Linked DNA regions of Homo sapiens: region 1 is reported to be linked to region 2. Evidence: microRNA targets listed by miRTarBase, many of them from high-throughput screens and not tested one by one. Region 2 holds a microRNA gene; the other region holds the end of a gene's coding sequence.
Evidence for each region. The annotated mature microRNA hsa-miR-6818-3p reads UUGUCUCUUGUUCCUCACACAG and lies in region 2 at 3,221-3,242, shown strand. An mRNA with a match to its seed (bases 2 to 7 or 8) in the 3' UTR can be bound and repressed. Matches are read on the target gene's strand: a 7mer-m8 pairs with bases 2 to 8, a 7mer-A1 pairs with bases 2 to 7 and ends in A, and an 8mer does both.

Region 1: miRTarBase lists ACAD8 as a target of hsa-miR-6818-3p. The part of its 3' UTR that is shown has no 7-base or 8-base seed match.

The regions. Positions count from the first base shown.
Region 1 is chr11:134,264,521-134,268,786 of GRCh38, forward strand. ACAD8 (acyl-CoA dehydrogenase family member 8) reads left to right here. Exons shown (of 11, transcript NM_014384.3): 11 at 388-1,335. The coding sequence ends at 440. Among named protein-coding and RNA genes, the nearest start is that of GLB1L3, 9.7 kb to the right of the region's middle.
Region 2 is chr22:30,003,872-30,008,137 of GRCh38, forward strand. MIR6818 (microRNA 6818) reads left to right here and starts at 3,178; the gene lies at 3,178-3,242. MTMR3 (myotubularin related protein 3) reads left to right here. Exons shown (of 20, transcript NM_021090.4): 10 at 3,243-3,448; 11 at 4,030-4,161.

The DNA.
Region 1 (4,266 bases), not on the chromosome of region 2:
AAGTAAAAGAAAAAAAATCACTCATGTTTCTACATCCAGAATGTTATTTTGGTACATCTCCTTTTAGGCATTTTACTCTGCCTTTGTTGGTACATTTTTAATTTTAATTAGAATTATCCTGTATATACTGTTTTTATTCTGCCTTTTTAAACTTTATATAAGCATTTTTACCATCAGAAGAAGTTTTTAAAAAAGTATTATTTCCTGACATTTTTCAGTACTTTGTAGAGAAGTCTCTGATAATCTCATCTCTCCCAGGCTAAAAGCAATGATTGTAGTTTAAATCTGCAGCTACTCTGAACTAGGCCTGGAGCAGCCTGGTCAGAGCTTTACTAAACTCTCAGACTTTGCTGCTGTGAAATTCTTCCTCCTTCCTCCCTCTTACAGGTAGCAATGAAGTGATGAGGATACTGATCTCTAGAAGCCTGCTTCAGGAGTAGAACCCACACTTGTTCTGGCCTGGTGTTCAGTGCGACTGCAGTCAGTGTTGAGTGGTGCCATGTGGGCCGCTCTATTCCAAAGGAATCATGGATTAGACCCAAGGGCTGAGCTCCTCTAGGGCAGGACCTGCACCCTGTGTGTTGGCACCAGCATCGGGTCTTGGACTGGGGCAGAATCCCCAGTGGAACCGGAAGAGCTGGACTGATGAGAAACATCAGAAGAACACATACTACCTTGTTTTCCTAATGCCAGAAGGGTGACCAGTGAAGATTCACCGTCAAACCATGAAAGTCCTTTCTTGGATCCACTTTATCTTGATTAGTCTGCATTTTACTAGTTCACTGGATCCCTCCTCTAGGGGCCTGGGGACTTTCACTGATGCTCTTCCTGATTCTAGAGCAAAGGTGTGGGAAGGGGAAATGGAGGAATGCCCTCCTGTCTGTGTCGTTCTCTGTGCCACAGCTACAGATGCAGAAGGTTTCTCTGGATAGCACACCTCTGAATGTAAATCATGATAAAATGGATATTTGGAAACTTACTCCTAAGCTGTGATTTAGGGTGTATTTCTACTTCTGGACTGCCTCAATATCAAGGGCTGAGACTTTTGAATTTTGAATATTCGTTGGGTTTCATGTTAAGAAGCCTGTGGTCTAGGAGTGCTATTCAGTGTTTCTTTTCCTGATAAACACTTTGAATATTTTTTTTGTGTTTTTGTTTCCTTTTCTGAAGCTGTTCCTCCTTTTAAATATTTTTAATCACATTGATAAAATCTATCCTTCACCACCTCTGGTTCTACTATAGTTGATTTTTATTTTAAATGTTTAATTGTATTTGATTAAACACTTAACTGGATTTTGGAATAATAAAACTCTCGTCCAATTTGGCTTTTAAAAAGCAGGCTCCTTAAATTATTAATAACTTTGCAAACTAAGCATTGTTTATGATGTATGAAAGTAGAATTAAAGTGAGATTCACAGATGGGACTTCAGGAGACCTTGTTTTGTTTGTTTGTTTGCTGTTTTTTGTTGTTTTTGAGACAGAGTCTCGCTCTGTCGCCCAGGCAGGAGTGCAGTGGCACAATCTCAGCTCACTGCAACTTCTTCCTCTGGGGTTCAAGCGATTCTCCTGCCTCAGCCTCACAAGTAGCCGGGACTACAGGCGCAAGCCACCACGTCCGGCTACTTTTTGTATTTTTAGTAGAGACAGGGTTTCACCATGTTGGCCAGGCTGGTCTCAAACTCCTAGCCTCAAGTGATCTGCCCACCTCGGCCTCCCAAAGTGCTGGGATTACAAGTGTGAGCCACTGTGCCCAGCCAGGGGAGCTCTGTTATAACTTACTATGTTACTCCATCCCCTCATCCCTATTGAAAAGAATACGCAAGACATTAACTACAAGCCAATGTTTAGAGAGAAGAGAATATGTGTCTGTAACAACAACAAATACTGTCTTTTTTGAATGAAGGAAGTTTTGGGTGCTGCAGGAGGACAGGGTGTGGGCACACTACAAAGTTTAAAATGTATTCCTGCCGCCCAAGGCCTTATTTAAGAGGAGCTAAGAGCTGTATTGCAAGGCAATGATATAGATCTGTATAAAGCTGAGAAGGCGACAACCTATAAAAGTGATGAGGGAGGAAGGGATTCAAATTAAGCTTTTATGAGAATGTGGTCAGGCATGGTGGCTCACACCAGAAGTCCTAACTACTTGGGAGTCTAAGGTGGGAGGATTGCGTGAGCCCAGGAATTTGAGGCTGCAGTGAGCTACAGTCATACCGCTGCACTCCAGCCTTGGTGACAGAGTGAGACCCTTGTCTCTGAAGAAAAGAAGAAAAGATTTTATGAAAACGTCTAATTAGAATCAAGAAAGTCAATTTCAGACAGGAAGGAACCAGGAGCAGGAAAAGTACAGGATTTATGTAAAAGCTGTTTACACTTTGGTTTAATTGTGGTTTGGGGTTGGCATGAGACAGAAGGAAAATAGAAGTTGAATCCGGATGGAGAGTTATGAAAGCCAAGGGTGGGGCTTTATTTGGTAAGCAGTGGAGAGCCATGGAAGGTTTTTAATGCGGAAGATAGGAGATTGATTCATTCATAAGAGCACTCTGGAATGCACATGTGGGATGAATATGAGTGAGGCAAGACAGAAGACATACCAGTCAATGGGTTCTTGAAATAGTCAAGGAATGTGGCAATTCACGCTGGATGTGGAAGGTGGAAGGAAAGACAAGTGTTAGCAAATGCAGACCTGTCTGCTGTGGAACTTGAAGACCTTGCTAGTAGTCAGGCTGCTTCCTGGCATTCCAGGCCTGAGAGGCTTCTATTTTGACTCAAAGCAAAAACAAATGCTATGTTAATGTCTTCCTATGTGTCCCCTTCATAAGATTTTGGTGAAATCATATTAAAAGTGCATTTCTCAGTATCACTCTCAGTTATTTAGAGATTTCAGTTCCCCAGTACCCTGGCAAGGGATTTGACGAACGTAGCAAGAACGTCGTGAACTTTGAGCTAATTTATATCATTGTTCATTTGTCTGTTTAATAAATAAAAGCAAGAAAACCAGAGCAACAAATGTCTTAAGGAAAAGCCTGTGTGTCAGGGGCTGTATAGGTGCAGAACACATGCAGGTAACCAAATACAACTTCGCTGGACAGACCTAATGGACTGGGGGCTGGGAAACAGGAGACACAATTTCAGTAGGAGGCGGCAAGGACAAAGGCATACACCACGTGCTCTGAGGCATGAGAGGCCTTGCGGTCATAACACAATGACTTAGGTCAGAATTGGATTTCCACGTGGTTTTAATCCTAATAATTCCTCAAACTGCCTCCAATTATTACAGTTGTGAGGAAAATCTAACTGTATACCCACACACACACACACACACAAGAATATTTACAGGATCTTAAAATTTTCTCTTCCTCCTTTATAGATTTGATAAATTAGAAATGCCTTTTTTACTTTAGTGCTGATCCAATGATACTTTTACTTTAAAAACACTAAGATTCCTCCAAAGCATTTTCCATGTATCAATCTCTCGGTTTTTATGAGGGGTTCTTGCACAGAGGAGACAGTCAAGAAATCCTAGCGTGAAATTGACTTGAGGAAAACAGCAACTACCAGTGCTGGCAGCAGCCGCAGTTTGGGCCCCGGATCCAGACTCCTACATCTAGATGTGATTGCCTGCTCTGCCACTGACTAATTGTGTGGCTTTGTTACCGAAATGCCAGGGGTTCAGTCTAGGTCCTGCTGCTCACCGCACAGAAAGCCGATGACTGAGATGACAAGTATTGAGAGGAAGAAGCTTTAATCGGCTGCTGCAGCCGCGGAGATGGGAGCTCAGTCTCAAATCCATCTCCCTGAGGGACTAAAACTAGGGAGTCGTATACCAGGGAAGAAATGTACCAATGTGTTAAGAAAGCAGGAACTAGGAAGGGGCACGGAAGCAATTGTGATGAATGAGGGGTCTGGCATCTCGTCTGGATGTAGTGATCTGGTGAGTTCCAGTTCTTTGATACCTGTTTTGAGAGGCCTGAAGGTCTCTGAGGAAGGAACTCAGATAAAACAAATATAAGGTTCAAGCTTTAACACCAGAAGGTCAATTTCTATGTTTATCCAAAAAACTATCTATGGGACTGCTGGGTCACTGGGTCGCTTTCGGCTTTAAGCAAAATTACCACAACTCTCTTCAGCTTGTTTCCCCATGTATATTGGAGATCATAAAAGCTCCTACCTCATAGCATGGTTGGTGAATCAAGAGGAAGAATAAAGGGCTCAGAACAGAGCATATCAAGCAAAGCGTTATTAACCTCTTTCATAAACGAACATAGT
Region 2 (4,266 bases):
TTACATTCTCCATTTCATTTTCCCAGTTTGCCGGCTTTTTGGACTCTCCCTGAGTTGGGCCAATCCAGTGGCTTACAGTTAGAAACTTCATTCCACTGAAATATTGAGATTGTAGGAAGGGATTTGTCTCCTTGTGGAATTCCTACAGAGGTAACCAGCTTGTTCATTTAGTCTACTAAAGGCAAACTCTGATGCCCACTCTGAATGGAGAGAGATGGAAAAGTATTTGCTCTGGCCCAGTGGAACTCATTACGTTTTTAATCTCAATTCTCATCACTGTTGTTTTCAGACACCCCTAGAAAAGTCAGTCACCAAATTTACCTGTCATTCAAGTGGTAAGGATGCTACAGGAACTAGAGAGTAGTGAAAGCTGAAGGGATTTATGAGTCTTATCAATGATCAGCTCAGCTGGAATGGGGAAAGCAGCCAGTTGCTGCTCTGGCCAACAACTGTGTTAGGTCAGCAGCCCTGGCATCTGTGGGGCTTGCTGACTTTGACCAAAAGGGGGAAGGTACTCTTATTTGCAAAATAAGAGGCTTTAGGTGAATTCTCCCTTTGGGAAGAGAAGCTTAAGAGGGCTGGTTGAAGAAAAACTTCCTTTTTTTCTAAATTTTATTCTAGAGGGCATGCACCTTCTAAAATTAATTCTAGAGGGCATGCACCCTAGGTTTTCCCCCCCTTTTTCTAGAGATACAAGAGGATATATAAATGAAAAATTTTATTTGCAGTTTTTCAGAGAAAGTCTTTCAAAAGATCACAAAGTTCTTGGTGTAGTCATCCATGCAAAATCAGGCAGGTTTCCTGGAACTGGGCTCTGTCTCAGAACATGTGTCTTGTATCGCTGAGATGCAGACTGGGTTGCTGTAGTATTTGGGAGCTTTGTAAGGGGCGTGTGGAAGAATCGGATCCTCCACCATGCTCTGCTTTGCCAGCCTAGGTGGCAGGATGCCTGGAACTCTTGACATCCATTTCCTGAATTTAGTTGTCTGTAGATTGGGTCATGATTCCTGAGGTTGCCAGCAGCAGTTACTTGACAGCACCATGCTGAACCAGCGCTTGATTAGGGCTTTGTCCTACTGTGATGAGAGAGCACTTAATTGGATTTATAACTGAAGGTAGAGATTGCTCTAACATAGCAAGATGATGTAAAGGGCACCCATCTGTAGTGCAGTTCACAGCTTTTTCCTTTGTGCATGTGGTGATTATTCTAAACTCCTAGTTACTTAAGGGAGCTTGCCTAAATCTAAGTTGAGGTTACTTAAGACAATTCTGTTCCTATATAAAATTGAAGCATTCTGTGTTTTAGTAGGGAGGGCTTTATCTGTTGGACATCATAATTTTTATACTTTGCCTGGTTCTGTTAGTGATAGAAATGCATTCCTTTAGTGATTTTTAACTGTAGTGTTTGAATTATCTTTCATGTAGTCTGAAGCATTTTAGAAGACTGCAGAAAACATAATTGTTTATTGCAATAGTCCAGTTGAAATCTAATAGCTACTATAATGCAGTGTCCCCTAAAACCCAAGATCCAGGCTGAAGAGCGCCATCTACTGCTCCTCTTGGGCACTGCTGGGAAGCATTGAAGAAGAGGAGGATGTTCAGGAAAGGCCCAACCAGCCTCTTGTGCAGGGTTTGGAGTCATTCAGCTCAGTGGTTGCCTGTTATTTGCTAGGAGACATTTTATAAAGAATCATTGAGGTTTTATTTCTATTTTGGCCCCATTCAGCACGTGAGCCAGTTGAGCATGTTGGCAATACACAAGTACTTACAGCTACTTGTCTCCCAGGGAGGGAGGCTTTAAAAACTACAAGCAAACTGGTGATTTCAGTGGAATTTGATTAGTGCCAAATTTAACTTATTTGTGAGTTTTAGGAGTAAAAACAAATTACAGTACATTTTCATCGTCCCAAAAAACCCATTCACAGGGCACCCAGCCACCCTAGCCCTGAATAATTAAGATGTCCAATGGATGAAGCCCCTGCTAGTAAAACATAGAGTGCTTCAGTTTTATATAGAAACATACTCGTTTTAAGTAACCCCAACTTAGAATTAGGCAAGCTCCCTTAAGTAACTACGAGTTTATAATAGTCACTACATGCAGAAATCTACTTCCATCTTTATAGATTCGCCTATTCTGGATACTTCATGTTAATTGTCGTACAATAAGTTGCCTTTTGTGACTGACTTCTTTCACTTGTCATAACATATTTGAGGTTCATCAGTGTCCTAGCCTGTATCAGAACTTTATTCCTCTTTACTGCCAAGTAATAGAATTTTTCTAACTTTTTATCAGTTAAAATTGCCTAACTAGGAAAAGTCTGGGTTTTAATAGCACCTTAAAGTAGACTGTGATTTCTGGTCTGTCTTATTGGAAAAGGATATGTCAGAGTATGGTTTTCTGAGGTTGATGCTCTTCTTCTCTTTCTTAAGAGCCCTAGGAAGGGTAGCTGGCTCATTGAGCTATCTGCCTATTATAAGAGCAGTCTGTGACTCATGAAATCTCAGGAGATTTTGTAAAGCAGTTCACTGTGGGCCAGGTAAATGTTTTATTCCCAGAGGCGGGCTCTTGGTTCAGCATTAAGAAGGTAGCAGATTTCACTATTGGGTAGCAGAATTAGTGTAGTACCTATAGATTTAAGTTACGAATATTGATTTATTTTCACTAAGAGTACACATTAATTCTTTTTTGTTTTTTGGAAATGGGGTCTTGCTCTGTCACCCAAGCTGGAGTGCTGGAGTGCAGTGGCACAATCATAGCTTTCTGCAACTTCAGCCTTCTGGGTTCAAGGGATCCTTCCACCTCAGCCTCCTGAGTAGCTGCGACTACAGGCATGTGCTACCATGCCTGGCTAATTTGTAAAAACTTTTTTGTAAAGATGGGGTCTTGCTATGTTGCTCAGGCTGGTCTTGAACTCCTGGGCTCAAGTGATCCTCCTGCCTCAGCCTCTCAAAGTGCTGGGATTGCAGAGTGAGCCTCCATGCCTGACCCCTGTTAGTCATTTTTTTGGGTAACTTTACAGGGATCTCCGTGATGTTATGGTAATTGAGAAAGACACACAGGTTTTGTTGTTTGTTCTTGTTGGTTGTGTAAGATTTCTACCCTCTTTAATACTGAGAGGACTTGAAGCTGACCCAACACTTACCTAGAATTAGACTGTTCATTAAGGCACTTAAAATCTATTTTGTGTGAGTACAGAGAGCATCTGAATGGGTACAGTTGTTGTCTCTTGTTCCTCACACAGGCACCAGAGCAATGGAGCTGTCATTGCCCGCTGTGGACAGCCAGAGGTTAGCTGGTGGGGCTGGCGAAATGCAGATGATGAGCATCTGGTACAGTCAGTAGCCAAAGCTTGTGCCTCTGACTCCCGATCGAGTGGCAGCAAGCTGTCAACTAGGAACACTTCTCGAGACTTTCCCAATGGGGGAGACCTTTCTGACGTGGAGTTCGGTAAGGTGCTCCCTGGACCCATGGCAATGATTTTTATAGCATCTAAGAACCTTTTCTTGAAATGGCCTCTTCCTTACAAGACATAGATTTACTTTTATAGAAGTGAATGTGCAGAGCTTCACTTGATGGGATTGATTGAGGAGTCATGGGTCTTGGCAGAGAATCAGAAGACCCTTTGTTTCAAACCTGAATCAAGATATTAGTGTGTTTGTTGTCTTTCTTGCCATTGTGACAAAAATGGAGTGTTTATGTAATAGAGGACTTGCAGTATCTGCAGACCATGGCAGGAAATGCCAGGCTTCATGAAAGGACAACAGATACAGAAATGAAGTATAAGAGACTGGGCTGTGTGAACCCCATGTGTACTCTGGGAGTCAGTTTTGGAGAATAAATCCTTCTCATCTTTCATAAGAAGGCCACATAGAAAAAAAGAGAAAAATCCTATGTATCAAGGGTTTTGGTTAGGGGATTTCATTTTATTGAGCCTTTTTTGTGCCATAAGATGTGCTTGTGGGTCTAATTCTGCACAGTTCTGGGAGAGACAGGCTCATTTAGTATGCCCTCTCCCTCTGTGTCCCTAGATTCTTCTCTGTCAAATGCTTCAGGAGCAGAGAGTTTAGCCATCCAACCGCAGAAGCTTTTGATCTTGGATGCACGCTCCTATGCAGCTGCTGTGGCAAACCGAGCCAAAGGAGGAGGCTGCGAATGCCCAGGTGAGGTGTATGGTGCTTTGTTCCCCATACTTTCTCCTTGTGAGTGTAGCCCTTGCCCAACTGAGACTTAGTTCCCAATTTGAAATAAGTGGCAAGCCATATTCC